Linked DNA regions of Homo sapiens: region 2 is linked to region 1. Evidence: fine-mapped expression QTL. A gene starts in region 1. The other region holds a variant in brackets. All regions are shown on one strand. Distances are between the middles of the regions.

The links.
Region 2: its variant is fine-mapped to the expression of TRIML1 in monocytes after interferon gamma (Fairfax 2014, PIP 0.94).

What each region holds. Positions count from the first base shown.
Region 1 is chr4:188,131,306-188,146,730 of GRCh38, forward strand. It overlaps TRIML1 (tripartite motif family like 1), which reads left to right and starts at 8,136. Exons shown (of 6, transcript NM_178556.5): 1 at 8,136-8,661; 2 at 9,223-9,318; 3 at 10,947-11,177; 4 at 12,533-12,555; 5 at 12,731-12,828. The coding sequence starts at 8,254.
Region 2 is chr4:189,030,946-189,046,370 of GRCh38, forward strand. No RefSeq gene overlaps it. Among named protein-coding and RNA genes, the nearest start is that of LINC02508, 260 kb to the left of the region's middle. The variant G/A (reference allele first, on the strand shown) is at 7,237.

The DNA of each region.
Region 1 (15,425 bases):
TCTTTACTGAAAAAACTGCTGACAAATTATTTAGAAGGTATATGTGTGTGTGTGTGTCTGTGTGTGTATTTGGAGACAGGGTCTTGCTCTGTCACCCAGGGTGGAATGAAGTGACAATCATAGCTCACTGCAGCCTTGAATTCCTGAGCTCAAGAGATCCTCATACCTCAGCCTCCCAAGTAGCTGGGACTATAGGCACACATCACCACTCCTAGCTAAATATATATATATATATATATATATATTTATATTTAGAGACAGGGTTTCTCTATGTTGCCCAGGCTGGTCTCAAACCCTTGGTTTCAAACTGTTCCCCCACTCTTCGTTTTATTTTTTAATTTTAATTTTTTTATTTTTTTTGAGATGGAGTCTCACTCTTGTCGCCCAGGCTGGAGTGTAATGGCACGATTCCGCCTCCTGGGTTCAAGCGATTCTCCTGCCTCAGACTCCCAAGTAGCTGGGATTACAGATGCTCACCACCACGCCTGGCTAATTTAAAAATTATTTTTGGTAGAGGCGGGGTTTCTCCACGTTGGCCAGGCTGGTTTCGAACTCCTGACCTCAAGTGATCCCCCAAGTGATCCGCCCACCTTGGCCTCCCAAAGTGCTAGGATTATGGGTATGAGCCACCGTGCCTGGCCTCCCCAACTCAGTTTAGCACCTTCTCACTTTTCCCTCCCCCAGTCCCTGGAAACCACCCTTCTACTTTCTGCTTCTGAGTTTGACTATGTCAGGTAACTTGTAGAAGGGGAATCATGTGGTATTTGTTCTCTGTGCTTGACTTATTTCATTTAGTATAATGTCCTCAAGGTCCATCCATGCTGTAGCATATGACAGGCCTTCCTTTTCAAGACTGACTTGAATATGTATAGTATATTCAAGAGAGTATATTCAATATAGTGCATTCAATATATGTATTGGTATGTGTAGATCTCATTTTCTTTATCCATTCATTCCTCGATGGACATTTAATTGTTTCCTCATCTCCGCTATTTTTTAAATTGTTTTGAGACGGGGTCTTACTCTGTTGCCCAGGCTGGATTGCAGTGGCACTATCACAGCTCACTGCAGCCTTGACATCTTGGGCTCAAATGATCCTCCCACCTCAGCTGGACTAAGGACCACAAGCATGGACCACTACGCCTGGCTAATTTAAAAAGAAGTTTTTTTGTAGAGAAGGGTCTGGCTATGTTGCCCAGGCTGAATTCCTGCTCTCAAGCAATCCTCCTACCTTGACCTTCCAAAGTGCTGGGATTATGGCATGAGTCACCATGCCTGGTCCCTCATCTCATAGCAATTGCCCCTATTTTGGATTTCCACCAACGGGGTTCCAATTTCTTCACATCCTCCCCAACTTTTGTTGTCTGTTTTTTGTTTGTTTTCTGTTTTTTGATAATAGCCATGTAACAGGTGAGAGGTGCTCTCTTTGTGATTGTAGATTTGCATTTCCCTGATGATTAGTGATATTGAGCATCTTTTCATATACCTGTTAGCCTTTCTATGTCTTCTTTGGAGAAATATCTGACTCTTTGGTCCATATTGTTATCTGGCTATTAGTTTTTTTGCTATTCAGTTATAGAAGTTCCTTATATATCTTGGGAATTAACCCCTTATCTGACATGTGATTTGCAAACAGAGTCAGCCCTCCAAATCTATGGGATCTGCATCTGTTGATTCAATCAACCGTGGATCAAAAATATTTTTTAAAAGACTCATTATGGGGCCAGTCATGGTGGGTCACACCTGTAATCCTAGCACTTTGGGAGGCGGAGGTGGGAGGATGGCTTCAGGCCAGGAGCCTGAGGTCAGCCTGGGCAACATACAAAGAACATATCTCTACAAATAAAATAAAATAAATAAAAACTATACAGGCATGGTGGTGTGCACTTGTTGTCCCAGCAACTCAAAAGGCTGAGGTGGGAGGATCACTGCAGCCCTGGGGGCCTGAAGCTACAATGAGCTATGATTGCACCACTGCATTCCAGCCTGGGTGACAAACTGAGACCCTGTCTCAAAAAAAAAAAATTATGTTCCTTACCTTGTTTAAAAATTGTTCTTTCTAGCACTTATAACTACTTAATATATATCTGTTTTTGATCTTATGCTTCTCCTTACTAAAATATAAATTCCATGATGGTAGAGATTTTCCTTTATTTTTTCCTAATTTCTCATTTATAAAGAAAAAGCTGGGGTGTTCATGTTATTTGTATTTCTTTCACATGTGTGGTTCTTTGATCTTCTGAAAATGTTATATAATATTTTATAATTTTATCACTCCTGTGCCTAAAATCTCTAGCAATTCCCATCGATTACAGAAAGAATTTCAAAACTTGGCGTAACACAGAAGCCTATTGTGATTGGCTCTCTGCTCACCCTCACCTCCAGCCCGACTCCCACTTCGTCAGGTTCTACAGTCTGCCAAAACCTCTAAGTTTTCTATTTTTGAAGTTTTTTTGTATTTAGAATGTTAACTATTTGGATGCCACATGCAGAGTGTGGGGGAAAAAAGCAAGAGCATTAAAAATACTTTAATACTTAAAAATAAATAATAAATGTGAAAGTCTGCAAATGTAGGCTTTTTTGGGTCATTCTCTAAACAACACAGTATAACATCGATTTACATAGCATTTACATTGTATTAGGTATTACATGTAATCTAGAGATGATTTATAAGTATACAGGAGGATGTGCAGGGTTAATGCAAATATTATGTCATTTTTTTTCCGGGACTGGAGTATCCCTGAATTTTGGTATCTGCAGGAGGTCCTGGAATGAGTCTCCTGCAGACGCTGAGGGGCCACTGCATTTTCTTTCGTTCCGCAGAATATGCATCTTCACGCTGTCGATCGTTTCCTCTGCTGTGCAGGAGCTTTTTGGCTTGATGTAGTTCCCTTTGTCTGTTGTTGCTTTTTTTGACCATGCTTTTAGTGTCACAGTCATGAAATTCCATACTTCTTCTGTGCTTTCATCTACACAAATACATATGTCAACATCTATAGCATGACCTCTTATTTTTAGGAAAAATACACAAATAGTGGAATATAATTTTTATTATTTAGACAAACTATTTTTGAGGGCAAAAATTTATTTCCCCTTAATGTCATATAATGGATGTCATATCATGTTAATGTATGTAAACAGATCTGCTTTTTAAAAAATGTCTATGTAGTAAGATGAAGGGCTATTATTTTGGCCTGGTGTGATGGCTCACGCCTATAGTTTCAGCGCTTTGCGAGGCCATGACAGGTGGATCACTTGAGGTCAGGAGTTTGAGACCAGCCTGGCCAACGTGGTGAAACTCCATCTCTGCTAAAAATACAAAAATTAGCCAGGCATGGTGGTGCACATCTGTAATCCCCAGTTACTCGGGAGGCTGAGACATGATAATCGCTTGAGCCTGGGAGCCGGAGGTTGCAGTGAGCTGAGATCACGCCACTGCACTCCAGCCTGGGCGACAGAGCAAGATTCCGTCTCAAAAAAAAAATAATAGTAATAAAAGCTATTATTTTAAGTATACATTCATGTAAGACTGCTCCATAATTTCAGAGTATATATTTGACAACTGTTGCAAATTCTCTTTCCTAGAAATATATAAATAAGGTGAAAAAAGCAATAAAAAAGGAAACATATGAGTAGAAATTCATACTTGGGAAAAAATAGACACACTCCCCCCTGCCCACGCACACACACATATATCCTGTATTTATCTACCTGGAATATACTTCGGTATAAGTTGCTGGGTAGAGATCAACTGAATTTATTTTTCCAGATGACTCCCTGACTTTCCCTAAACTGTGTGTTGAGTAACCTATCTTTTCCAGACTGGCATGAAATGACAGATATACAGAGGACCCTTGAACAACCTGGGTTTGAACTCCTCAACATGGACACTTATACACGGATTTTTCTCAATAAAAGTGACACCAAGAATGCCTGCCTCTCCTGCTCAGCCTTCCACTTCCTCTACCTATCTGGCCTCTGCCACCCCTGAGACAGCGAGACCAGCCCTCCCACCCCCACCTCCTCCTCCTCAGCCTACTCAAAGTGGTAACGACAAGGGTGAAGACCTTTATGAGGATCCGCTTTCACTTAGTGAATAGATTTTCTCGTAATAACATTTTCTTTTCTCTAGCTTATTTGATAAGAATAAAATAATACATGTAACAAAAAAATATATTAATTGACTGTTTCTGTTATTGATAAGGCTTGGTCAACAGTAGACTATTAGTAGTTAATGTTCTAGGAAAGTTAAAGTGTATTTTTGACTGTGCAAGGGGTCAGCACCTGTAACCCCTGCATTGCTCAAGGGTCAATTGTATTTTTTTAATCTCGCTCTGTGCCCAGGCTGGAGTGCACCGGTGATCATGTCTCACTGCTGGCTTCGTCTCCTGGGTTCAAGTGATTCTCGTGCCTCAGCGCCGAGTAGCTGGGATTACAGGCACCCGCCATCACGCCCGGCTAATTTTTGTATTTTTGTAGAGACAGGGTTTCACCATATTGGCCAGGCTGGTCTTGAACTCCTGACCTCAGGTGATCCACCTGCCTTGGCCTCCCAAAGTGCTGGGATTACTGGGGTAAGCCACTGGGCCTGGCTAACTTTATTTTTAAAGCTAGGCTTTCAAGCAATGTATTTTTCAAATAAGCTCCCAACTAGTCCACCGCCTCATCAACAAATAAGCCCTTACTGTATCTATAAAGTTCATTTTTTTCTGCATGTGCCAACCCTGATGGCATCTGGGTGATAGTTGTGACAGTGACCCTCTTGGAGTACTCCTAGCATCACCCTCTCAGGAGAGAAAGGCCAGAGAAGAAGCTACTTGAGTTGTTGATCTCAGAAGCCGTGTCTGGTAGTGTGATTGGGTCATATATTTTGGGAAGGCTGGTCTATTCTATGAATGCATTTCATCTATGAATTAAGCCCAAGCAAAATGTTGAGAAAGATGGTAAGGAAGTCTGCCTTCCCAAGAGTGAATGTGGTCAGTGATTTCAGATGCCTGTCACACCATCACTCCATAATGACAGCTGTCTGACTTCCTTCTCACAGCAATTGGACAATGTTCATTTTTTTTTTTGAGATGGAGTCTTGCTCTGTCTCCCAGGCTGGAGTGCAGTGGAGCGATCTCGGCTCTCTGCAAGCTCCGCCTCCCGGGTTCACGCCATTCTCCTGTCTTAGTCTCCCTAGTAGCTGGGACTACAGGTTCCCACCACCACATCCGGCTAATTTTTTGTATTTTTTTAGTAGAGATGGGGTTTCACCGTGTTAGCCAGGATGGTCTAGATCTCCGGACCTCGTGATCCACCTGCCTTGGCCTCCCAAAATGCTGGGATTACAGGTGTGAGCCACCGCGCCTGGCCTGCAATGTTCATTTTATTGAGATAACTGGAAATTTTCACCCACTCACAAGTCAACAAGTGGATGCAGTATAGTGTGTTGACAAAAGAGAAAGACTGGGAGGTAGGCGCTCCAGTTTCCTAGTCCTAATCCGGCGTATGTGGTAAGTGAGTATCAGGAGATGAATTTAATTTATTCTAGCCTCAGTTTTCCTCAGCATCTGTAGAAGGTAGTTGGACTATATGATCTCTTGACTTCCAGCTAAATATAAGACTATGATTCCATAATAATATAGTTCCTCTATTCATTTATAACTCATTAACAGAAAAATCGAGCCACGTGCAAAGAATTCTTGTAGTCATCAATGAATAACACGTGGTTATTGTGTTACGATGCCTATAAAATAAAAAAAATTATCTGGAAGAGGGAAACGGGATAGAGCAGATCAGTGTGACTTGAACAGAGACTATGCCAGCCTCCCTATTCCAAATTGGAATACTGGCTCTGTGATGTGCTATAACTGTATTGTGAGGCTTATTCTAATGATTTTGGTAAATGTTAAAGACTCCTCCTGGGGTTGTGTTGAAATAACACACTGAATGGAGATGGTAGTTCATAAATTCTTTTTCTAGTGGTGGCAGTTAGTGTTATTGTAGTCTTTTTTTTTTTTTTTTTTTTTTTTTGAGATGGGATCTTTCTCTGTCTCCCAAGCTGGAGTGCAGTGGTGGGATCTTGGCTCACTGCAACCTCCACCTCTTGGGTTCAAGTGATTCTCCTGCCTCAGCCTCCCAAGTAGCTGGGATTACAGGCGTGCAACACCACACCCAGCTATTTTTACTTTTTTTTTTTTTTTTTTTGAGACAGAGTTTCGCTTTTGTTGCCCAGGCTGGAGTGCAATGGCGTGATCTCACCTCACTGCAACCTCCACCTCCTGGGTTCAAGCAATTCTTCTGTCTCAGCCTCCTGACTAGCTGGGATTACAGGCATGTGCCACCATGCCCGGCTAATTTTGTATTTTTAGTAGAGACGGAGTTTCTCCATGTTGGCCAGGCTGGTCTCGAACTCCCGACCTCAAGTGATCTGCCTGCCTCAGCCTCCCAAAGTGCTGGGATTACAGGCATGAACCACTGCACCCGGCCTAATTTTCATATTTTTAGTAGAGACGGAGTTTCACCATGTTGGCCAGGCTGGTCTTAAACTCCTGACCTCAAGTGATCCACCCACCTCGGCCTCCCAAACTGCTGGGATTACAGATGTGAGCAACCGCGCCTGGCCAAACTTTTTTTCTTTTTTTTTTTAAGACTCTTACAAGACTAACTCATAGCAATATTCTGAAGCTGTGACAAGTTAGTATCCTGGAGGCTATCTTGGTAGAGGTTTCATGATGCCACCCTGATGCCACCTCTCTTCCTCTTTACAGTAGTATAACTCTTTGCTCTTATTTTTTCATAGCTTAAATTCTCATCCTAGCAATTCACGTATGCTTTACAAGGGATGTATAGGATTGAAACATTTTGAATTAATGATTTCAGAAAGGTGAGTTTTGACTAGGAGAAAGGAAGGTGGAGGAAAAAACATTCTCAGCCAGAAAACTTCTTTTTCCCAAAGTTCAAGATAAGAAAACATCCAACATCCTGTTGGAGGTAAGTGGGAAAGAAGTAGCAGTTGGAGCCTTGAAAGTCAGAAACCAATGAACGGAACAGCCTGAGTAATGGACCCGACTCGTGGAAGGCTGCCAAGCTGGAGAGTGAGGGGACGGAGACAGAAATATGGCGTGATGAGTTCGTGGGAAGGTCAAACTCGCTGGCCTTTGAGGAAGAGCTTTTGAGGTGCAACTTCCTGGCATGCAGTGAGCAGAAGGCAGGCCAGGACAGGAGCTGACTCCCGAGCAGGGGACACAGTGAATTTGTGGCATTTGTTACCAATCTCGGAGTTCACTGTGCACAGTCTCCACACTAGGCATTTACTTTTTCATATGTCCGAAAAAATGTCTGCACACTTCATTTCTGTCCAGTAAGAACTGATAATCAGGGATTTGAAGGGGCCTAGTTTGGAAATTTTCAATGGGTGAAAATAAGTGAGCAAAATTACATTTATACTAAAATATAATTCTTTCCATCTGCTCCATAGTGGGATAGCCTCTTGAGGCAACTTCCAATTAGAATGTCATTTTAGATGCTTTCCAAGATGGCAGATGGGTGAGTACTAGGGTGTGCAGGGAAGATCAATAAACAGCTCTGGCAATTCATCGTGCGCCTAACACCAAGGAATACTTCAGTGGAAGAGCTCTCATTTTGTTGGGATGAATAAAATTAAATAAAAGTACACAGTACCCAATAAAGGAACAAAAGCTTAGGCTTTGGTCAAGCAGAACAAAAGGGGCTAATGAGAAAAGGACTATGTATTACAGTTTTCTTCTCTCAGTTCTCAACTAGGTTTTATTAGTGGAGTTCCCAAAAGATTTGGACCAAATTTCCAATTCAGATATTATTAGAGATCATCAAAACTCAAATCTCTTTACTGGTTTACACCAAATCACCCAAGCTTCCAGCCTAAAACCCACATGCTCACATGGTTCCACAGTGCTGTTTATGTACAATAACCAGTTCTCAAAATGGTAATCCTGTTAGAAGCCAGAATCCTCAGCCTCTAGCATGTGTGCTTTTCACAGAGATAAGTCTCAAAGTTTGGGGTTGGTGAGGAGCCCAGTATACAGGAGTTCCACATTAAGTCATAATTGGCTTTGTGTTGGACAGTGTATGTCAGCTGGTGAAATCAGGCACAGAAGAGATAAGGGTTTCTTGTCATAACAACATAGGAACAGGTCACCCGCGTGTTACTCAAAACTGTAGGACGGCAGTGAGGGCTTTGCTAATCCCAGAACAGAGGTGTAACCTGGCTGCATATCCAGCCTCGAGAAAATGTCTACAGCAGATCTGATGGAGAACCTCAGGGAGGAACTCACCTGTTTCATCTGCTTAGACTATTTCAGCAGCCCAGTGACCACCGAGTGTGGGCACAGCTTTTGTCTGGTGTGTCTCCTCAGGAGCTGGGAGGAACATAACACACCTTTATCTTGTCCTGAGTGCTGGAGGACCTTGGAGGGCCCGCATTTCCAGTCAAACGAGCGTCTGGGGAGGCTGGCCAGCATCGCCAGGCAGCTCCGGTCCCAGGTGCTGCAGAGCGAGGATGAGCAGGGCAGCTACGGGAGGATGCCCACCACTGCCAAGGCGCTCTCCGATGACGAGCAGGGTGGAAGCGCCTTCGTAGCCCAGAGCCATGGTGCAAACAGAGTGCATCTCTCCAGCGAGGCTGAGGAGCATCACAGAGTAAGACAGCTGCTCAGCATGAACCCCACGACTCATCGCAGCTAACTCCGTTAGCTTTCCTGACGTTTCCTAACGTCCTCTGTGGGGGACAGTCACGAGGGCCCATCTGAGCACCACATCACAAACTGGCGTGGGTCCAGTTTACACCCTTTTTTTTCCCTTTTTTTGTTTTTGAGACAGAGTTTTGCTCTGTTGCCCAGGCTGGAGTGCAGCAGTGCGATCTCAGTCACTGCAACCTCCGCCTCCCAGGTTCACGCCATTCTCCTGCCTCAGCCTCCCCAGTAGCTGGGACTACAGTCACCCACCACCACGCCCGGCTAATTTTTTGTATTTTTAATAGAGACGGGGTTTCACCATGTTGGCCAGGCTGGTCTTGAACTCCTGACCTCAGGTGATCCGCCTGCCTCGGCCTCCCAAAGTGCTGGGATTACAGGCGTGAGGCGCCGCACCCAGCCTGCCCTTTGTTTTAGAGGCCTAGGACTGCGCAGTTACTGGTCTTCAAAGCCCCTTCATGACCTGGGACTCTGCTCATTTGCCAGAAAGGGTTTGTTTCTATTGCAGGAGAAACTCCAGGAAATCCTGAATCTTTTGCGTGTAAGGAGAAAGGAAGCTCAGGCTGTACTAACCCATGAGAAGGAGAGAGTGAAACTGTGCCAGGTCGGTGTCTGTCTGACTTTTGCTGCTTGTATATGACCCCATAAGGGGGACTAAAGGGAAATTTAGTGAAATATCAGGAAAAAAAAAAGACAAATTTTTCCAGTCTCACCTCTAAAATATGCAGTTTCCTTGCATTGGGCTGCCTTCTTCTGAGCGTCCTCGTGGGAGTCTCAAGGCTCAGCTGCAATTCGCCCCCTCTAGGAGCCTCCTTTGCATAACTAGACAACGCTGTGGCTTCCTCTATGATGGCTCTGGTAGAATTATTTAAAACACAAGTGATACTTATAGACATGTAACATGAGACGGAAAGCGATTTTAAAAAGAAATATCTCAAAAACATGGAGGGGAAAATGCAAATTAAAAAAAATAAAGAGACAGAGATATAAAAGCAAAATAGTGGTTTAAATGATACCTGACAAGTCCTCAAGGTTGGTCACGGACTTGGATTTGAGCTCTCCAGCAGTCAAAGCAAAGGACTAAATATCAAATTATATATTTTTTAAAACCATGTATCTGATTCTCCCAATAGACTTTGAAATCTGTTTTTTTTTTTTTTTTTTTGGAGATGGAGTCTCTCTCTGTCGCCCAGGCTGGAGTGCAGTGGCGCGATCCCGGCTCACTGCAACCTCCACCTCCCGGGTTCAAGTGATTCTCCTGCCTCAGCCTTCTGAGTAGCTGGGATTACAGACGTGTGCCACCATGCCCAGCTAATTTTGTATATTTGTGGAGATGGGGTTTTACCATGTTAGCCAGGCTGATCTCGAACTCCCGACCTCAGGTAATCCACCTGTCTCGGTCTCCCAAAGTGCTGGGATTACAGGTGTGAGCCACCGTGCTTGGCCGTAGACTTTGAATTCTTAAGTGAGAGTATTTGCCATGTATGTTTCTGTTCCTTTTTGGTTATCTGACACCTACTTTCATTGAATAAATATTTGTTGAATAAATGAACACACATTTTTCATAATTTTTCTTAATTTTGTTTTATTTGTATCATAGTCCTGATCACTACTTGTCATATTTCTTACTCATTTTTGGTTTTCTCCACTAGAACGACCGCCTCCTGGGAATGGAGATTTTGGTTTTGTTTACTATTGTATCTATAGCGCACATACCTCCGAAAACATCAACCTCTACACCCAGCGCATCAACAGATTAAATGTATTATATGTTGGATTTCAGGAATTGTTGCCATGAAACTCTAGGACTTGGCCAGGCATGGTGGCCCACACCTGTAATCCCAGCACTTTGGGAGGCTGAGGAGGGTGGGTCACCCGGTCAAGAGACTTGAGACAATCCTGACCAACATGGTGAAACCCCATCTTTACTAAAAATACAAAAATTAGCTGGGCGTGGTGGCACACTCCTAGACTATAGTCCCAGCTACTCAGGAGGCTGAGGCAGGAGAATCATTTGAACTCAGGAGGCAGAGGTTGCAGTGAGCCGAGATTGCGCCACTGCACTTCAGACTGGCGACAGAGTGAGACTCCATCTCAAAAAAAAAAAAAAAAAGAAAGAAAGAAACTCTAGGACTTGTAAGGATTAAAAATCTACAGACAAGGGCATTTCTCTTACTAACTTTATCTCGTGTGTGTGTGTGTGTGTGTGTGTGTGTGTGTGTGTTTTGGCAGGAAGAAACAAAGACTTGTAAACAGGTTGTTGTGTCAGAATACATGAAAATGCACCAGTTCCTGAAGGAAGAGGAGCAGCTGCAACTCCAGCTACTAGAACAGGAAGAGAAAGAGAACATGAGGAAGCTGAGGAACAATGAGATCAAACTGACCCAGCAAATCAGAAGCCTAAGCAAAATGATCGCACAGATTGAGTCCTCAAGTCAAAGCTCGGCTTTCGAATCTCTTGAGGTGAGAATAACATTCATGAGAGTAATGGGAAAAATTATAGTAACTCATAGTACTTCAAGCCATAGGAAATAATGTTTTCTTTATTCATCTTAAAAACTAAGTTCTGGTCCAAAAGTAGTTTTCCTAAAGAATTGACATTCTATATGTCAATAAAGCCTTATAGAAGAGAGAGAGAGAGAAAAAAAAAAACACATCCAGAGGAATAACTATCCCAAACAAGCCTGAGAGTGGCTTCAATTTCTTCTGTACCTGCCTCTCTGCAACCTCAGCTTTGTTAATTTTTTTTTCTAGTTTATTAATGTGTATTTACTATGTGCTGGGCACATTAAATTTAATCTTCACAAAGACCTGATGAAGATAAGTACCATTATGATATGAACTCTAGGTCTAGATGACTGTCATCTACAGGATGGGTTAATAGCGGCACTGATTTAATTATTCATACCTGTGGTACTAACGAGATCTGCCCGCCTGATAGTTAATAGACAGGAGAGCCCTCCTGTTCTGTGCAGGGAGCTCCTATTTCTCACCACCTTTGGTCTACTGCCCTTCTAGGCTGCTGCATTCTTCAGGACCTTTTTTTTTTTTTTTGAGACAGAGTCTCGCACTGTCGCCCAGGCTGGAGTGCAGTGGTGCAATCTTGGCTCACTGCAATCTACGCCTCCTGGGTTCAAGCAATTCTCTTGCCTCAGCCTCCCAAGTAGCTGGGATTACAGGCGTGTGCCACCATGCCCAGCTAAGTTTTGTATTTTTAGTAGAGACGGGGTTTCACAATGTTGGCCAGGATGGTCTCTATCTCTTGACCTTGTGATCCATCCACCTTGGCCTCCCAAAAGGCTGGGATTACAGGCGAGAGCCACCGGCACCCGGCCGTGGACTTTCTTAAACATAAGCCATGTGATCCAACTCCAGCTTCAGGTCTGTTTTGTAGACTGGTTCCACAGAGTGCTACTATTTAATTTAGTGCCTTCCAAACACACCACCCCGACCTGACACAGGCTTGGTTAGCCTCAGTTCTCACCAGCCCATTTTCCTTTGTTATCTCTGCCTCTCACTGGATGATCGAGACTAACAGGTTGGCTTGTTTGCAGAACAGGTTCCCTGGACAAGGTGATGATACGAGAAAAAGAAAAGGACAAAGTATTCTCTAGTCATTGTGAGAAACACCTTGTGTTCACCACAGCACATCCCTGGAAGAAACTGGGGACGCTTTTCTCTGCTCTCTGTGCTCCCACTCATGGTGTGCTTCATGGGAAGCAGATTCTGTGAGCTTTGCAAGGACTGTATGCAAAATGAATTTCGTCTGTGTTATGATCAAAGCGCACCATGCTAACTTCTTTCTTTTTTACCCGTAGGAAGTGAGAGGAGCCCTGGAAAGGTAGGCTTTCATTCTGTGTTCAGTTATGCAAGCTGCGGGGCAGTGGTGCTGATGGACAGTTCTGAGTGGGGATAGGAGGTCTGCGCTGTTGCTGGGGGAGAAATGAGGTGGACTCTCCAGCTGGAGCAGGTCACGCGGTCTGTGCCGAGGAGTGAACCTCTCTGCTCTCTTGCAGGAGCGAGCCACTCTTGCTTCAGTGTCCAGAGGCCACCACCACAGAGCTGAGTCTGTGCCGCATCACGGGAATGAAGGAGATGCTAAGAAAATTCAGCAGTAAGTCAGCCTGATTTGTTACCCCTCCGGGGCTCGAAGAATTAACTTCAGCATACCTTCTTCCAGTGTCAGACATTCACGATCTGACACGAGGCTCCTGGTTAAGGAATCCGGGCCAGCACGGAACACCAGGGAGGGCTGGGGCCACAGACCGTCTCTGAGCGTGAGCAGAGAGAAGCAGTGAGACTTGACTCAGGCTTTATCTGGCTTTGTTTTCTGTCTAAAGGGTCTTTTTTTTTTTTTCTTTGAGACGGAGTCTCACTCCGTGTCCCGGGCTGGAGCGCAGGGGCGCGATCTCGGCTCACTGCAAGCTCCGCTTCCCGGGTTCACGCCATTCTCCTGCCTCAGCCTCCCGAGTAGCTGGGACTACAGGCGCCCGCCACCACGCCTGGGTAATTTTTTGTATTTTTAGTACAGACGGGGTTTCACTGTGTTAGCCAGGATGGTCTCGATCTCCTGACCTCGTGATCCGCCCGCCTCGGCCTCCCAAAGTGCTGGGATTACAGGCGTGAGCCACTGCGCCCAGCCAATCCTAGTCCTTTCTTTGTTGGTTTTGTCATTGTCTTTTCCATCCCCCCCTTGCACGTGCAGACACGCCCCCCTCATGCAGGGGCGTCTACATTTCTAGCTCTGATCCCGTTAGGATGAAAGCTGACTTAAATTCTAAAATCCCAGTGAGGGTGCATTCAACGAACTGTCCTTGTAGAATGCTCCAGATGTTTAGTCCAGCCAACACTGAGAGACGTCAGGATTAGTTCTCAGCTTTTATCTTGTGGACAATCTGACCTTCAGAGGAAGAGGCCTAATGAGCTTTGAACTCCAGAGTGCTGAATAAAGCCCTGCCATGGGCCCCGGCACTATGCTACTGGGCTCTGCGCTTACTTACAATGATAAGTAAGGCAGATTTTGCCTTTCCTTTTGTAGAATTTTCAATGAAATTGAGGAGGAAGGCATTAATCACACAGATAATTAGTTATGGTGGGATCTGGTCTATAAATAAAAGTATGAAATGGTATGATTGGGGCCGGGTGCGGTGGCTCACGCTTGTAATCCCAGCACTTTGGGAGGCCAAGGCGGGCAGATCACTTGGGGTCAGGAGTTCGAGACCAGCCTGGCCAACATGGTGAAACTGCGTCTCTGCTAAAAATACAAAAAAAAATTAGCTGGGAGTGATGGTGGGCACCTGTAATCCCAGCTACTCGGGAGGCCTAGGCAGGAGAATCACTTGAACCCAGGAGGTGGAGGTTGCAGTGAGCAGAGATGGCGCCATTGCATTCCAGCCTGGGCGACAGAGCGAGACTCCGTCTCAAAAAAAAAAAAAAAAAAAAAAAAAAAAAAAAAAAGTCAGAAATGGAATGACTGGGGTACCTGATCTTGTCTGGACAGTGAGTGGAAGTTGGAATCCTCAGCCAGGCATGGTGGCTCATGCCTGTAATCCCAGCACTTTGGGAGACTGAGGTGGGTGGATCACCCGAGGTCGGGAGTTTGAGACCAGCCTGGCCAGCATGATGAAACCCCATCTCTACTAAAAATACAAAAAACTAGCCGGGCGTGGTGGTGGACAAGACTACTACTCGGGAGGCTGAGGCAAGAGAATCACTTGAACCTGGGAGACGAGGTTGCAGTGAGTCAAGATCGCGTCATTGCAGTCCAGGCTGGGCAACAAGAGCAAAACTGTCTCAGGAAAAAAATAAAAAAATAAAAGGAGGCCCCATATGTGACTGTCGGTTCACAGACTATGTGTGCTTCATCACATGGTCCCTGGGTGCTGCACTGAACTCACAGGAAGCTGCATTTGTCATGACATAATGAAAAAGGCTGATTAGGGATTGTGATTTGTGATTTGAACACTCAGTAACCGTGTAATCTTGGTGAAGTTTCCTAACCTTCCTGAACCTGTTTTCTTTTTTGTAAAAATTATAGAAAAGAATGCTTGCAGTGATTAAATGAGATAATGTACAGAAAATGTTTGGCACATTAGAAGTTCAGCCAAAGATAAGTGCTATTTTCTCTCCCACCCAAACTGAAGAACCAGAACCTCCCATGGCTAATATGATGCGAACAACCAAGGGTGTCCCTATGTGGACGCACAGCTCGGAGCTCTAAAGATGTCCTGTGAACAGAGCGACGCCCATTCCACCCACAGGGATTCTCCTCCCCACCTCAGGCAGGCTAAAGCTCCTTCTCCACGTGGCTCTTCTCTCTGTCTCCATTTAGAGCTTCATGCTATGTGTTGTGGAACAGTCAAAGAAGAGCTCAGAAATTTTGTTCTCAACCAAATACTGTTTTTTTCTGAAACTGAGTCTTGCTCTGTCGCCCAGGCTGGAGTGCAGTGGTATAATCTTGGCTCACTGCAACCTCCACCTCCTGGGTTCAAGCAATTCTCGTGCCTCAGCCTCCTGAGTAGTTCGGATTACAAGCACGTGCCACCATGCCTGGCTATGTTTTGTATTTTTAGTAGAGACGGGGTTTCACCATGTTGCCCAGGCTGGTCTTGAACTCCTGACCTTGTGATCTGCCTGCCTCACCCTCCCAAAGTGCTGCATTACAGGCGCGAGCCATCACGCCCGGCCCCAAATTACATTTAAAAAACCAGG
Region 2 (15,425 bases), 900 kb after region 1:
AGCTATCTATTTATTGCTCTTTACTATTCATGTTAGTTGTATTATTGGAGGCATAATGACACAGTGAAAGAGGCTCTGCATCCAAGTAGGTCACAGCATCATTGGGGGCTTACAATATGCAAAGACGTTAAAACCGTAATCAACCAGGCATTATACGTGATAATTACAAATGAGTGTTAGGCAATACGTGCTGAAGGTGTTATTTTCATATACCCATTTATCTCCAAAAAAATAGAGTTGGCGTAACATTCTTGTTCATAAAAAGATCATAGAAACAGAACAAAAACGTTATATCCCGTTTCTGCTTTCAACATGGGTATTAGACTCATTTCTCCAAACAACTACGTGTCCAATATAGAGATATCTAAATATAAATAACAATTTTCAAAAGCCATAATCAATCCAATCCATCTAATCTAAAAGCCGACACCTAATCAGAGACACACAAGGACCAAAGTACCTGAATAATATATCAGAAATATTGATAAGCTTATCACATGTGCTTTTCTTTACAGCTTTTAAAATACAGAGTTATTGAGTTTGGGTGACTGTCCATTGTCTTTGTTGACACAAATAATTAAAACCTGCCATGACCATAACTTTCATACCTAACTTCAGGACAAAAATAACAATGGCCCTGACAGGACCTCTTTGGCCTAGACTGACAGCTGCTGTGACCGACACGCTTGTTCTGGGCTAATGGACATTGATGGACTTCCTGTGTGTCAGCTGAATCGGAGGTGATTTTCAACTGCTGAACAGGAGATGACCTGCTGGCTCATTGAATATGTGGGATACTTGGGAATGGGCTGATGAGAAAACTCATCTTCTGTACAGGTCCTTGTTGGGTCGAGACAGAAAGCGAAGGCTTTGTGCCTGTTACTCACTTGAGCTCATTTTGACCCAAACAAGTATCCAGAGGAATTAACTAGTGACCCAGGTGCAGGGTCGCACCTGTCCTCATGAGTGCCAATCAAACATTTTGGCTGGAAATTCCCCTCAAATGATGGAGGATACTGGCTTCAATCCTTTAAATGGGGCATATTTCCTTAGTTATTATACATGTCATAGGGGACAGAAAATTAAATATTATGACTAGAATGATTAATAATGATAGCATAAAACTTTAATTTTGTTTCCGTTCTCATTTTCGTGATATAATTACATGTCCCACTTAAAAATACAAAGGTTTGAAAGAAATCTCGCACACCACTGAGGCAGTTTACTAATACTCCAGGTGATAACAATACTGACAAAGTACCCTCATGCCTGCCTCCTTTTGACTGATTATTTTATTTATTTGTGTTTGTTTTGGTAAAGGGAGTAGGAGGAGAGTTGCTGGAAAGGCCTTATTGATGGGAATAGAAGAGGGAGAAGTATATAAATTTGAGAATGTGCAAAAGTAAACTAGGCATTCATTGTGAGGAAAAATGCTTAATGCAGTATCTGGAGCATCATTTTCCCACTGGAGTAAAGCTACCCAGTAATTATGTATTGCACCAAACAGCTGTAAAATCAGTAGAGCGGAATCTTTCTAAGTCCCATCTCTTTTAAAATGATGTTATAGCTATATTTTCATAAGAAAACAATGAGCCAAAGTATTACTATTAAGGAACTTGAACTCTTAATATAACAAATAAGGCCTCGGTTTTCACGTAATCAGAAAGAATGCAAATAATTATATCAACTTTGAAGATGTGCCAAAGATATAAAAATGGCTGAGAGATTTCTGCTGCTTTCCTGGAGACATAGTAGGGACAGAGTGATCTGCCACAATTTGGGGATAAGATTGGTAAAGTACTAACCTAAGCAAAAATATGAATGTTGAGAAATGTGCTGCCAGCGAGTTTTCTCAAGTCTCCATCAAGAGTGCAGAGCCAGGAAAAACGGATCACAATGCAATGATGTCAGCGTGATATAATGCTGGTGTCTCTCAACAGGTATTTCCATATTTCCATATGGAGTCTTAGAAATTAGAATACCAGCACTAGAGTCTATTTTTTTTTTTTTTTTTGAAATGGAGTCTCATTCTGTTGCCCAGGCTGGAGTGCAGTGGCATGATCACGGCTCACTATAGATTCTGCCTCCTGGGTTCAAGCGATTCTTGTGCCTCAGCTTCCTGAGTCACTGGGACTACAGGCGCGTGCCACTACACTGGGCCAAGTTTTGTATTTTTAGTAGAGACGGGGTTTCACTATGTTGGCCACGCCCATCTCAAGCTCCTGGCCTAAAGCAATCCACCCACCTCAGCCTCCCAAACTGCTGAGATTACAGGTTTGAGCCACTGCACCTGGCCTGGAGCCTCTCGTTGCATCTCTAACACTGTGCAGTGTGGAAGAGGTCCTATCTGCTGGGATGCACTATCAGGTTCCATTGTTTATCACTGATAAGGGGCATCAGGATCCTGTGATAGTATAATAGCATCCAAATTATCATTTATATCTCGAAATATTTTCACTTTTCATTTAGGTTACCAACATAGGTCAGGGTTTTCTGCTGAAGAGATGAAAAATCTTGCCTACGTTGCAGCATTACTTTAATTTTTAAGAAATGGACCATTCTAAATAGAACGTTAATGTTTTGTGAGATTGAATGTTGTGAATCCGTCCTGTAACCTGACATACAAAACCTGGGACCAGACGATGGATCTCAGTTGCCCATGCAGGTACCATGACCTGAATAAATGCTGCTGTTGTAGAGGTATCTGGTCTATTTTTGACAAGCTCTTAACTATAATCCATAGTAGAAAATTAAAGTGATTCATTTTGATATTATCCATATAAGCAAGCTGAACTGAAGAATTAAGTCAAAAGAAAATTATTTTAAAAATAATAAGCATATGTCAGTAATTTATTTTATTTTTTTGAGACAGGCTCCCTTGCTCTGTCACCCAGGTTGGACTGCGGTGGTGCAGTTATAGCTCACTGCAGCCTTGAACACCTGTGTCAGTTATTTATTGTTCTTGTTACAAGGTCCTCCAAAATCGTGGCATAAAACAGCAATCATTGGTTCTTTTGCATAATTTTACGCACTGGCAATCCAGGCAGTCCTGCTGGTCTAACTTGGGTTCACACATGCAGCTGCAGTGACCTGATGGCTTGCAGTAAGTAGAGCGTCCGGGCTGGCTTCACTCGCTCCTCTGGCAGTCTGTGCTGTCTGTTGTTTGAGGCACCTGACTCTTCTCCACATGGCCCTTCCACCACATGCTACTGGTCTCAGCATATCAAAAGGTCTGCCTGGTTTCAAGGAGCTGAAGAACACACCTCACCTGCTGGTTATAGGAACAGCAATGTCACAACAGCAACGTCACACTGCAAAGGGGCAGGCGTGCGACGGTGCTCTCTTCATTGGAGGCACGGTTCATTCCTGTCCTTCCCCACACCATCGGTCCCAGCGTTCCCACTGTACCTTTCACGCCTGCCCAGCGTCTCACTCGGTACATCGCTGAGGTTGCCTGTCCTTGGCAGCGAATGGGAAAGCAGAAGCAGGAGTTGTGGCAGCCACTGAAGAGTGATGTTTTTGTTGTTGTTTTAACTCCACATCTCTCTCCCTTTTTTTTTTAAGTTCATAGATCCATATTGATCCTCACCTAGAACAAAATCAGCCAAATGTATCAAAGATTTTAAAGAAAGATAAGCTGTAAAAAATGTTTCATAAAGTAAGGCAGGCGAGAAAATAAATGCTTATTTTAAAACTAAAATAAGAAAGTTGTACTTAAATACACTCACATCCAAGGTGGATTCACAACTTAGTGTTTGTTCAAACCTTAGGGTGCCCAGAGGTGTCGCGGCTGACTTGCTCATGCTGTTATTGCCTCTGGTAGCAAAGATATTTCCCAACTCCAAATTAAAACTAGTTTGCATTAGGAAAAAATCAAAATAAGTTTGTTTCTCATGATATGATGGAACAAAGCATTTTTAAAAAATCATTTTAAATGTGGGGAAAATAGATTTTTTTTGTTTAAATTGGAAGGAAAATAGGAAACAAAGAGAAGCATAAATAAGATTTCCAAAGACAAAGAAATACTAGGTACAAGGGAGCCTCTTAACAGTAGCTGGAAGGAAAACTAATGACATCCGAGGTTCTCAGGCCTCTGAGCAGCCTCTGCTGTTCTGATCTTAAACGTCAAACAAGCGGGATGTTGGGCCACTGGGACACGGATGCTCAGGAGCCTGCACTGGCTTCCTTTAAACCAATAAATCAAAATCCTCCTTGCGGAAGACGCGGGTTTCCACAGGCAGCTCCCCGTGGAGGGCTCCCAGCTGATCTGTCACGGTGCGGGATGAGGAGCCCGCAGCCCCTTCCAGTGCCCACCTCCACTCTGCACACCCGTCCCCTGCCCGTCTCCACACGCCCACACACCCCTCTCCCTGGATCGTGCCCACCTCATTCTCCAGTTACTCAGCTCCTACCATCCTTCAAGGTCCACCCGCTCCTGACATCCTCTGTTAACCTCTATCCAGTTATTCCAGGCTCCACCGGCATTTCCTTCCCTTCCTTGCCTAGGACATTTTCAGTGTGCACTATTCTTTTGGACTATGTGTACTATAATTTGAAAAGCTGCAACACCTGCCAGACCAGGGGCTTTTTATGTCCAGAGCAATAGATGGCGTCTATGGTGTTTTCCCATCTCCTGCTCTTTCTCTCCAATGGTGTCTCTGTCTCTTTGAGCAGTGATGGTCGCCCCATTGCGTATAGAGGAAATGGAGGAAAACTTGGAAGTACCGCCTTCCATACAAAGTCAAGGATCGAGACCTTCCTCTCCGCGTTCCAGAATCCCTCAGGAAATACGCGCGTGCCTTCGCATCTAGAGCAAGCGCTGCAAGAATTCACAGAACGGCCAGAAGTTCCCCATCCCGCTGGTGGCACTCACTGCGTTAGGCGCTCAGCCTCCAGTCCGGGCCGCTTTGGCTTGAAGACGGCCGTTTTCCTTCCTGATACCTGCTTCTAGTCTTTCTGCAACTTCTGGATTCCTGTCATTCTTATACCTGCTCTGGGCAGCCTTCCATTCATTCTGCGAATTCCGTGAAGCTTTTCAATAAATTGCTTTTCTCCAATTAGCCTAAATCTCTTTCAGTTATTGGCAGCCCAGTGCCCTGACCCAGCCAAGCACTGTAGACAGTCTACACGTGGCAGCATAACCTAAGACTGTAGGCAGTCTACGCGGGGCAGCATAGCCTAAGACTGTAGGCAGTCTACGCGGGGCAGCATAGCCTAAGACTGTAGGCAGTCTACGCGGGGCAGCATAGCCTAAGACTGTAGGCAGTCTACGCGGGGCAGCATAGCCTAAGACTGTAGGCAGTCTACGCGGGGCAGCATAGCCTAAGACTGTAGGCAGTCTACGCGGGGCAGCATAGCCTAAGACTGTAGGCAGTCTACGCGTGGCAGCATAACCTAAGACACACACACATATATTTATTTCACAGTGACAACTATTAGAGTATGTTTACATGGTTTCCTAGATAATAATGGCCTGGATACTCACAACTTGTTTGCTTCCTGTTGGAGAATAGAATTTTATCTAATTAGTGATTGTGTTTGTATATGGCACCCTAAACAAAAATACCTTCTTTTCTGCTCCATGGACTGAGCGAGATGAGACCACGTGGGAGGATGCAATAGAGGCCTATTGGCCACATTGTTTTGCTAACACTGAATCTCAGAGCTAAACGGGCTTCCCCCTTCCCATCCCAGAAGCCCTCCATCTCCCAAGGAGTGCAGTTTCTAAATAAACAGCCCAGCCCGGCATCAAGCAGCAATTCACTTAGCAAAGAATGGATGAGAGGGCTGAACAGAGTATTCAGTTTTCTGAAATTTTTCAGTAAGGCCATCACTCTCCCTTCCCAGGGGCAAAGTTAGTAAAGGGAAGGACATCAGTAGTAGGGCAAAAACCTATCCACTTTAAGAACTGCAATTAATTAATAAATGTTCCAGTTCATGCTGCAACTAGTTAATATGCATAGAAGCAGACACATTCCTGAACCATTTTGCCTTTAGGTGAGGCACATGCTCTCTTACTGAGCCACTGAGTCTCCCGAGTCAGCCTTTTAGTAGGAGCAGAGTTGATTGTCTTGACCAGAATAACTGCTTAGGAGAAAGGGTAGAGAGTGCCCCGCTGTGTGACCAGGACCCATCTTTAGATCACCAGTCCAGAGAACAGTGACACGCACTTGATCAGTGTGCATGCAACGATATGGATGGACAGCATTGCTTCTGAAAATAAATGTGTAATAATGCATACTTCTCTGGCTACCAAGGATGGCGGATAAAAATGTGAACTGGGCAGTTAGACTACCTGTGTTCAAGTATGAATCCACTCTTCGCTAGGTGACAGCTTGGGCAAGTGACTTAGCCTTTCAGTGCTTCTATTTCCTTATAAGTAAAATATAAGTGTGATAGCATCTATCTCTGAGTATTGTGTATGTCGTGCAGAGGAAATATAGACACGACATAAGGCCTGCCAATAGTAGGAACTAAAATATTTTATAAGATCATAAAGTTACTCATGAACTACATCTACACTTATTGGAGACTGATTTTTTTTAAGGATCCTTGTCATATGGGAAAGTACAAGGACATATGGAGATGCTGAGAGAATAACACTGGACAATACTTTGATGTTGACAGAGCCCCTTTCTCTGAAGTACCCAAATAATGCCTGTTTTTATATATTTGTCTTCATTATATTTGGCCATATATATTCTACTGTGCTAAATGTGGTCAGTGGCTTCAGTCCCTTCTAGGCAATCCTAACTTATGTAAATATGAAGACCAGGTAAAAAAGCCAGAATGGGTCAGGCGCGGGGGCTCACGCCTGTAATCCCAGCACTTTGGGAGGCCGAGGCGGGCGGATCACGAGGTCAGGAGATCGAGACCATCCTGGCTAACACCGTGAAACCCCGTCTCTACTAAAAATACAAAAAATTAGCCGGGCGTGGTGGCGGGTCCCAGCTACTCGGGAGGCTGAGGCAGGAGAATGGCGGGAACCCGGGAGGCGGAGGTTGCAGTGAGCCGAGATCCCGCCACCGCACTCCAGCCTGGGCGGCAGAGCGAGACTCCGTCAAAAACAACAACAACAAACAACAACAACAACAGCAACGCCAGAACGGAGAAGCCAAATAACCGATGCAACGAACTATGTGCACGACTCGCTGATTACAATATTTATATAATATTGAATTTTGAAACTTTGTTATCTGCATTTGTCCATTTGGGACAAAATAACTTGTTGTCTAT[G/A]TGTCTATGAAGAAGAAAATATTTTACATAGATTGAAGCTGATGAAATTATAACAGTTGGCAACAATGCCAGAGAAAAATAAGTATCTTAACTGGAAAAAATGAGTTTTAAAAAATAGATGAGAATAATATTTCCGAAAAGGAATGAAGATTTCGAGTGAATGTCGCGTGTGGCAGCATCCACAGCTCACGATCCCTGAGAACACACTATTAACTGCCTACTTCAGTCCTTCCCTACTTGAATAGACCCTCAGCTCAGTTTCAGTCTCTCTGAGGTCACTTCTGACTGTAAGCCAGATACTCATTTTCACATCTCACCTTTCCCCAAAAGCAGCTGGGTTGTCCTCCACTCTCATAACAAGGTTCCATGTCTTGAGAGACCCTTGTTTCATAATTAGAGGGAAATCTATTTTTACTTCCACTACCTCTGAGAGTCTTTGTAAGGGTTTGAGCTGGGGACTGGGATATACATTACATATTTTGGATAAAAACTCTTTCCTTCTATTATGGTTTTCCATTGTCCCTACATTACTGATCCTTACTTTGTCTCATTTCTAATGCCTGCTGTGGTCTTTTTCTGTACAATGTCCCAATATACTAGATCTCATATTCCTTCATTCCTCAAAAGGCCCACTACTAAGAAGACAGAGTACCAGAAAAGATTTTTCGAAACTTTGATTTAATAAGAAGGGTTTCTGAATGTGAATCTTCCACTAACTGCTGAAATTGGAATACTGCAGTCCTAGAAATTCCTGGGCGATTTACCTGCAAGAGATCATTTATCCTAGTCCTCGTTCATCACCAAAGCCTTCAGTTTTCACTGTTGAGGGGAGAATTTCTTTGCCCCTTTCTAGGTACCAATCAATCCTCAGCCTCCACATTTCTGTTATTTTCTCCTGCTAAGCAATTTTTTTCTGCTGCTTATCCCTGACAGGTTCCAGACATAACATTAGCACAGGAGAAAATGCATTAAGGTGTTGTGTTACATAAGCATCTACCCCCAGATCCTACTCCCTTATAATACAAGGCACTGAAAGAAAATGGGAAATAACACTTTCCTGTTTGTGATGATCTTATTTTTAGCGGGGCCCTCTTTCCTGCTGGTTTTTGAATATAGAAAAAGGCAACAGTGAAAATGTGTGTTCGACTTGTCCAAAGCAAACCCCTGGATTCCGTAGTTTTTGTTATACTTATTTATATGCATGAATTCTCACCTGTACTAGACTGTAAGATCCCTAAGGACAGCATTCAGTTTTCATAATAGGTGAACAGACTAGAGTACCTTAAAAATAAGCTAAAATATCTAAGAAGTAGCATCAGGTGTATCTCAGCCTTCCATAAATACATGCTCAGTGAATGGCAACAGAGATAAAGGACATGTTGAAGTAGGGCTGGGCACAGTGACTCACACCTGTAATCCCAGCACTTTGGGAGGCTGAGGCAGGTGGATCACATGAGGTCTGGAGTTCAAGACCAGCCTGGCCAAAATGGAGAAACCCTGTCTCTACTAAAAATACAAAATTTAGCCAGGCATGCTGGTGGTTGCCTGTAATCCCAGCTACTTGGGAGGCTGAGGTGGGAGAATCTCTTGCACCCGGGAGGCAGAGGTTGCAGTGAGCTGAGGTCATGCCACTGCATTACAGCCTGGGCGACAAGAGCGAGACTCCATCTCAAAAAAAAAAAAAAAAGCACTTTGAAAATAAAAAAACGTATACTAAAATAGTATACAACTGTACCTAAATTAAAATAATTTTTAAAAGTTGAACAGAGGGTAGGGAATTTCTAGTCATTGACTCATTACTTACCCTGTACACACCCCAAGGTGAATATGTAGCCAGGATTTAAACTGTGTTTTTTGTGCAGAATGTTCTAATGAGTGTCATGAAGGAATTTCAAAGAACAAAATAAGCATGGCTGCCTTGCCTTCATGAACCGTGTTACACAGAGATAGTGAGAAACATCACAAATGGGATTTCCCCATCAGTGGATCACTTCTGTCTCACAAAGCCAATTGGGTTGTCCCCCCACGGTGTTATGGGGCCAGTCCCTCTCATTACAGTGCTGGCACAGCAGCTTGGCCTGGAAGACACTGAGGTGGAGATCAAGGGAATCCTTTGGATGGATTCCTTGGTATTCTGCTACTGAGCCATGCTGGGAGGTGATACATCAGCACAGGGGGAGAAGCACTTCTCAGCATTCCAAGCAGCCTCCAAATCGTCATGAAAAGGACTCTGTCCACTTTATATAATGATAAAAGCAGAATCAAATGTCACATTTTCTCCATGTTAAACTTTTCCCATGCCTTGCATTACATTTGAGATCTGCTCTTCCATATTGTTAGTGAGATGAGAAATAAGGCCATGCATAGAAGAGCCCTTCGTCTGGGACGTGGGGAAGCAGAGCAGTCTATGAGCTACACTATCCAGGTGGCCTCTCTGGCAATGAGACGATGGGCTCTCCAGAGGGGCCTGAGGGACTTCATGGAGCTGTCAGTCCCATTAAGGTGGGGAGCAGGAGGCTGTGTCTGTTGAGCCAACCAATGGTGGTGGAGAGTCAGAGGCCATGTTCCTTTGCTGGGGCTACCGTAACGAAGTACCAGAGACTGGGCGGCCTAAACAAAAGCAGGTTATGTCAGCACAGCTCTGGATGGTGGAAGTCCAAGATCAAGAGGTTGGCAAGGTAGGTTCCCTCTGAGGCCCCTCTCTTTGGCTTGCAGATGTCCACTCTCCCTCTGTCTCTTTACAAGATCTTTCCTCTGTGCAAGGACATTTCTGGTGTACAAATTTCTTCTTCTTATAAAGACACCAGTCAGATTGGATTAAGGCCCATCCTAAAGACTTGAATTAAACTTTATTGTGCAATTTAAGACTGTATCTCCAAAATAGGCTGTATTCTGAAGTACTAGGGGTTAGAACTTCAATATCTGAATTTTGAGGGGACAGTGAGCCCATCACAGATGCCACACAGCCGGTAAATGGGAAGAGTGGAATGCTACCCTGAGTCTTTCTTGTGTGACAGGCTGATAAACTCCACATGCCAGGAAACATTCATTCAAACAAACAAGAATCTACTCCAAGTTTGGAGCCCTATTTTCATGCCACGGACAGTCCATATATCATCATTTTTCTGTAGGAATTCCATGAGATGCTTTGAAGTGACTTGCTAAAATAAAGTTTTACTCTCTAGAGAGAACATAGTTCTTTGAGATTGTATAATTTTGCAAATACTGAAAAGCAATCTTAATGAGCCACTACAGACAGAGGTTTAATACTAAATCTGCACAAACTTCTAATTCTAGCGTCAGACAACAGCAATTTATGCTCCAGGTAAGAATTTTGGAGAAAAAGCAAAACTGGATTTATGCAACAGATATTTATTTGAGTACAACTTTACATGCAGTACCCTAAAAGGTGTGATATAAGCTGAGAAACTTTAAAATTTAATGTGGCTCCAATAGAAACTTTTCACCTCTGAAAGATAAAATTAAACATTGGATAACTTCACAAAATGAATTTGAAACCCTTACAAATTTGGAAAAATTCACTCAGATAAACAATTTAAAATGAGAGGATTTTAGGAATATATTTTATGTGGAAGATAAAATTTTGTTCTATATTTTGAATGAGTTACTTTTTATAAATTGACAAGTCTTTATAATTTAATTTTAATTTAATATAATTTAATTTTGTAGTTTTAGCCATTTTCTGAGTCACATAAAACACTTACCTAACTCTAAAGAAATATAAAAACTTAAGCTTCAGTCATGAAAAATTTTTGTCTACATGAATGAGTATACTTTTCCTCAGGGTCTAAGAAATATTGAAAGCCTACCTTTGGATGACAGAAGGAGGATTTGTTTCTAGATCTGGTCATGAACCATTTCAAAAACCAAAGTCACATAATTCAGTTATTTATACAGAACAGAAAAAAAAATCACAACAAATAATGTCGCAAATAATTACTATTAATTCCAGTAAAATGATGCACTCCTAATGATGCACCTATAATTCAAGGTTATGGCTGTTTTGTAAGTTGATCTCTCTCTCTTTCTTGCGCTTGGGCGATCAATATATTTTTACTGAATATCTGCTACAACCCCAACCAAAACAAGCTACTATGGAAACAGTAATACATAAGATGAAATCTATAGTTCTCAAAGAGGCTATAATTTTGCATAAAAGTTAACAAATTTCATACATTAGTATAAAACACCAGTAAAAGAAAACACAGGTGAAGTAGTAATGTAAAAATTATAATCAAATTTAAGAGAGGTAGAGAACTCATTCTTGTTTGCTCATGTTGGAGAAGTCATATCAAAAAAAAGTTACGTATCTAGAATTCAAGGAGATGCTTAAAAATTAAAATTAATTTCATGTGAATAAAAATAGAAATAGGAGATGGAAGAGTAAATTCTAGGTAGAGGAAACAATACACTTCTGGGCAATAAATAGTTAAATTATGAAATAATGAGTCAATTCAGTTTGATTGAATGACTCTAAGTTATGCCTCAGGGAGTGCAGAGGAATGAATTTGCTTTTGGAAATATCATCTGGGTTATCTAAGAGAGTCTTGAATGACACAGTATGGCAATGGGGAACCTTTGTAAGTTTTTGAGTAGGTTAGTAGTATCAAAAAGAGTTGAGCTTGATATAAGACATGCATTTAGGAGTCATCTTCAAAGAGCTGAGAGTTAAAGCAATGGGCATGTTTATGATGCCTAAAACAAGGACTGAAGGTGGCATGACCTCACAACCTGATCTGCCCAGAACACTGCAGGTCTATTATGTATTGTCCTAATGTCCCCTTTGATTAGTACCCCTGTCTGTTTCAGAAATGTCACAGTTTGGATCATAATTTATATGGTCACCCAAAACAGAGAAAGCACAAATGGCTGGGTGCATTGGCTCACGACTGTAATCCCAGCACTTTGGGAGGCCGAGGTGGGCGGATCACAAGGTCAGGAGATCGAGACCAACCTGGCCAACATGGTGAAACCCCGTGTCTACTAAAAATACAAAAATTAGCCAGGCGTGGTGGTACACACCTGTAATCCCAGCTACTCATGAGGCTGAGGCAGGAAAATTGCTTGAACCAGGGAGTCGGAGGTTGCAGTGAGCAGAGATCACGCCACTACACTCCAGCCTGGCGACAGAGCAAAGCTCTGTCAAAAAGGAAGGAAAGAAGGAAGGAAGGAAGGAAGGGACTCACTTAATGATTATATTTAATAAATGGAAAACAAGTCCAGAAGGTGGTAATGGAAAAGTGGAGAGGAGAGTTTGGAAATCTCAATTGCATGCATTTGCCTCTATTTCTAGCTGGGCCATGCATCACTCTAGCATTCTTCATACCTGACATGCGTTTAGCTCAATTCACAGTCAGAGGGAAGAACTGCCCCATGATCATTCCGTTGGTTGTATTTCACTTTGGAATTACATTTCATTCTTTCAACATGATAACTTACTTTTCAAATTATTAATCTACCTTCAAAATAGTTCTTACTCGTTAAACTACTACCAGACTAAACTAAACCAAGAGAGACTGGTCATGATGGTGATAAATAGCACAGAATTGCGACTGAAAGCAATTTGTCAAGTGGATTATTAACGTGTTTCTAGAAGAAAGTTCACCTGTGAGAAGATGACTTTGTACCTCTTTCAATATGATTCAATCTATTTGCCTCCAATTCCTCCATTCAATTTCAAACTTCCTGCAGGCAGTAAGAGCCTCTTTTCTATTTTAGTAAAAAGCCTGCAAACATCAGATAAAAAGCGAGGTTGATTGATCGGCTGAACACGCAGCGCTCCATTAGGGAAGAATGCTGCCATGGTGTCCATACAGCAACCATTAAGAAATTTCGCTGGCTGTGGTGTGAACACACGTGTTTTAATAGCTTAACTTCTCTGCTGCTAACCTAGCACTGAATTTCCTCCATCAACATCAGCCTCATGCTTCACACTTTTATTGTAGCACATTTTCTCTACAGAAGTCTAATCTCATTGGAGAACATTTAAAGAAGATAGCAAATACTTTTTATAATAGCACTATATTTCTCTATTTAAATAGCAGTAGTTAGTGAGTTTTCAGCTATCCTAACGCCTATTTGCTTTTACTAAAACTTCCTCTTCATTGGAGAGCTGTGATAATGACTTATTTGGCAGAATATGCATTAAGGAACATCAGTATGTTAAAATCATCAATATTATCACAAACCGCCTACTAAAACATTGAATTTGCCCATTTCTTCCTGTTTCATTGCCTGCTCTAAGAAGGTGGTGTATAGCACACGCGCGTCCTTTTAACTAATGGAGATTGTGCAGTTTCTGTTGTTAAGAATTTGAGATTTTAAGGCCTATCATAACTGTAGTCTTATATTCGAAGTGCTTTATTTTACCCTGGTCGTTGTCACTTAGAATCATTCATGAAGCTTTGGTGTGGCCTTCCAGAAAGAGTGGCTTAACCTTTCATTTGTCGTGAAAATTAAAGAAACTCAGAGTAGTTTTACATTCACCATGTTTGAGAAAATAAAAATAATGATTTTAGCTTTTTAAATATTTTTGACTACACAATAAAATATACAGATAAAGGATAGAGTCCAGAGAATTTTAGACAAAAATCACTCTGTTAATTCTATTATGGTAATATTTAAGTCTGAATTCCTGGTTTGACTTTTGCTTACTCAGTTTCTTTTCATCACTTTAGGTCTCCCTAAATAAGAGTAATTTACTCTTATTGATAAATTGTTAGAATATAAAACGCGGTATTAGTACTTTTTCCTTTTTAGATCTATACATGCAAAATAATGTACCCATTGTAAGTATACAGTTCAATGAGTTTTGATAAAATATATACTTACATAACTCCCAGTCAAGATAAAGGATATTTCAATCACCCCACAAAGTTTTATTTTGATCCCAGGGAACTACCTATCTGTTCCCTGTCACTATCATTCTGCCTGTTCCAGTATTTCATATCTGTGCAATCCTATGATATGACTTTTTGTGTGTCTTAGTCCCATCAGTTAGAAATATGTTTTGAGATTCTTTCCTGTGGTTATATATGTCAGTTGTCAGTTCTATTCATTGGAAAGCAGTATTTCATTGTCTGAATGAACTTTTTAAAAAAATTCACCTATCTATGGATTGACAATAGAGTTTTGCAGTGCTCAGATATTAGGAATAAAGCTCTGTCAACCCTTAAATACACACCTTTTTGTGCATGCGTTTTCATATCTGCTGGATAAATGCCTAGAGGCGGAATTGCTACGACAAAGAGTAAGTGCATGTTTAATTTTGTAAGGAATTGCCAGTTTTCCTGAGTGGTTGTGCATTGTACACTCCCATCAGCAGTGTATGGGAGTTCTGTTTGCTCCACATCCTTGACAACGCACTGGTCTGTTTTACTACATGCAGATTCATCTTCGAGAGAAATGCGTTTTTGCAACCTATGTACAATATCCTGTCTTCTGGAACTATTCTCTGGTCACCTTCTGCTTTTTTTTTTTTTTTTTTTTTTTAGCATAAACTATACCATCACCGCTTCGGCTTTTTTTTAGCAATCACCTTCAGGCATTTTATGAAGATTGCCTCCGCATGATTCAGCAACCTGACATTTTTAAGTTTTCCATTAAAAACAATGTAAGTTAAAGAAAATTAAGCCATCCAGCAAAATGTTGTAAAACAATTTCATCACGTTGACCTTAACTTCCTATATTAACAAATATATTTATGCTCATGTTTAAAGCATTTCACACGAGAGAATAACTGATTTTGAATTTTGCTATGATCTCATAAACAAATAACTATTAAATATAAACCTCTTATTTCAATATAGACAAATGTTGTATATAATTCTCAAATAATGAGATATCACTCAGTAATAATCCATAAACTTAAGTAACTTCTCTGACTCTCTGTTTTTCTATAAGTTAAAAGGGAATAACACTACCAATAATAATGTCTATTCCAGAGAACTCTTAAGATGATTAAATGAGTTAATATTTATTAAGAATCTAGCAAGCCTGCTTGCTTCTAGGAAATGCTCTACACATTTAAAAATGAATAGATACAGGTAACCCAAACCATATATAATGCTGCAACATTGTCAGACATGTGTCACCACACGGAAAAAGTTAATTTCTTGGATATCTTCTAAGCCACACTTTTCAAAATGTGCCATTTAATAAGCTGCAAA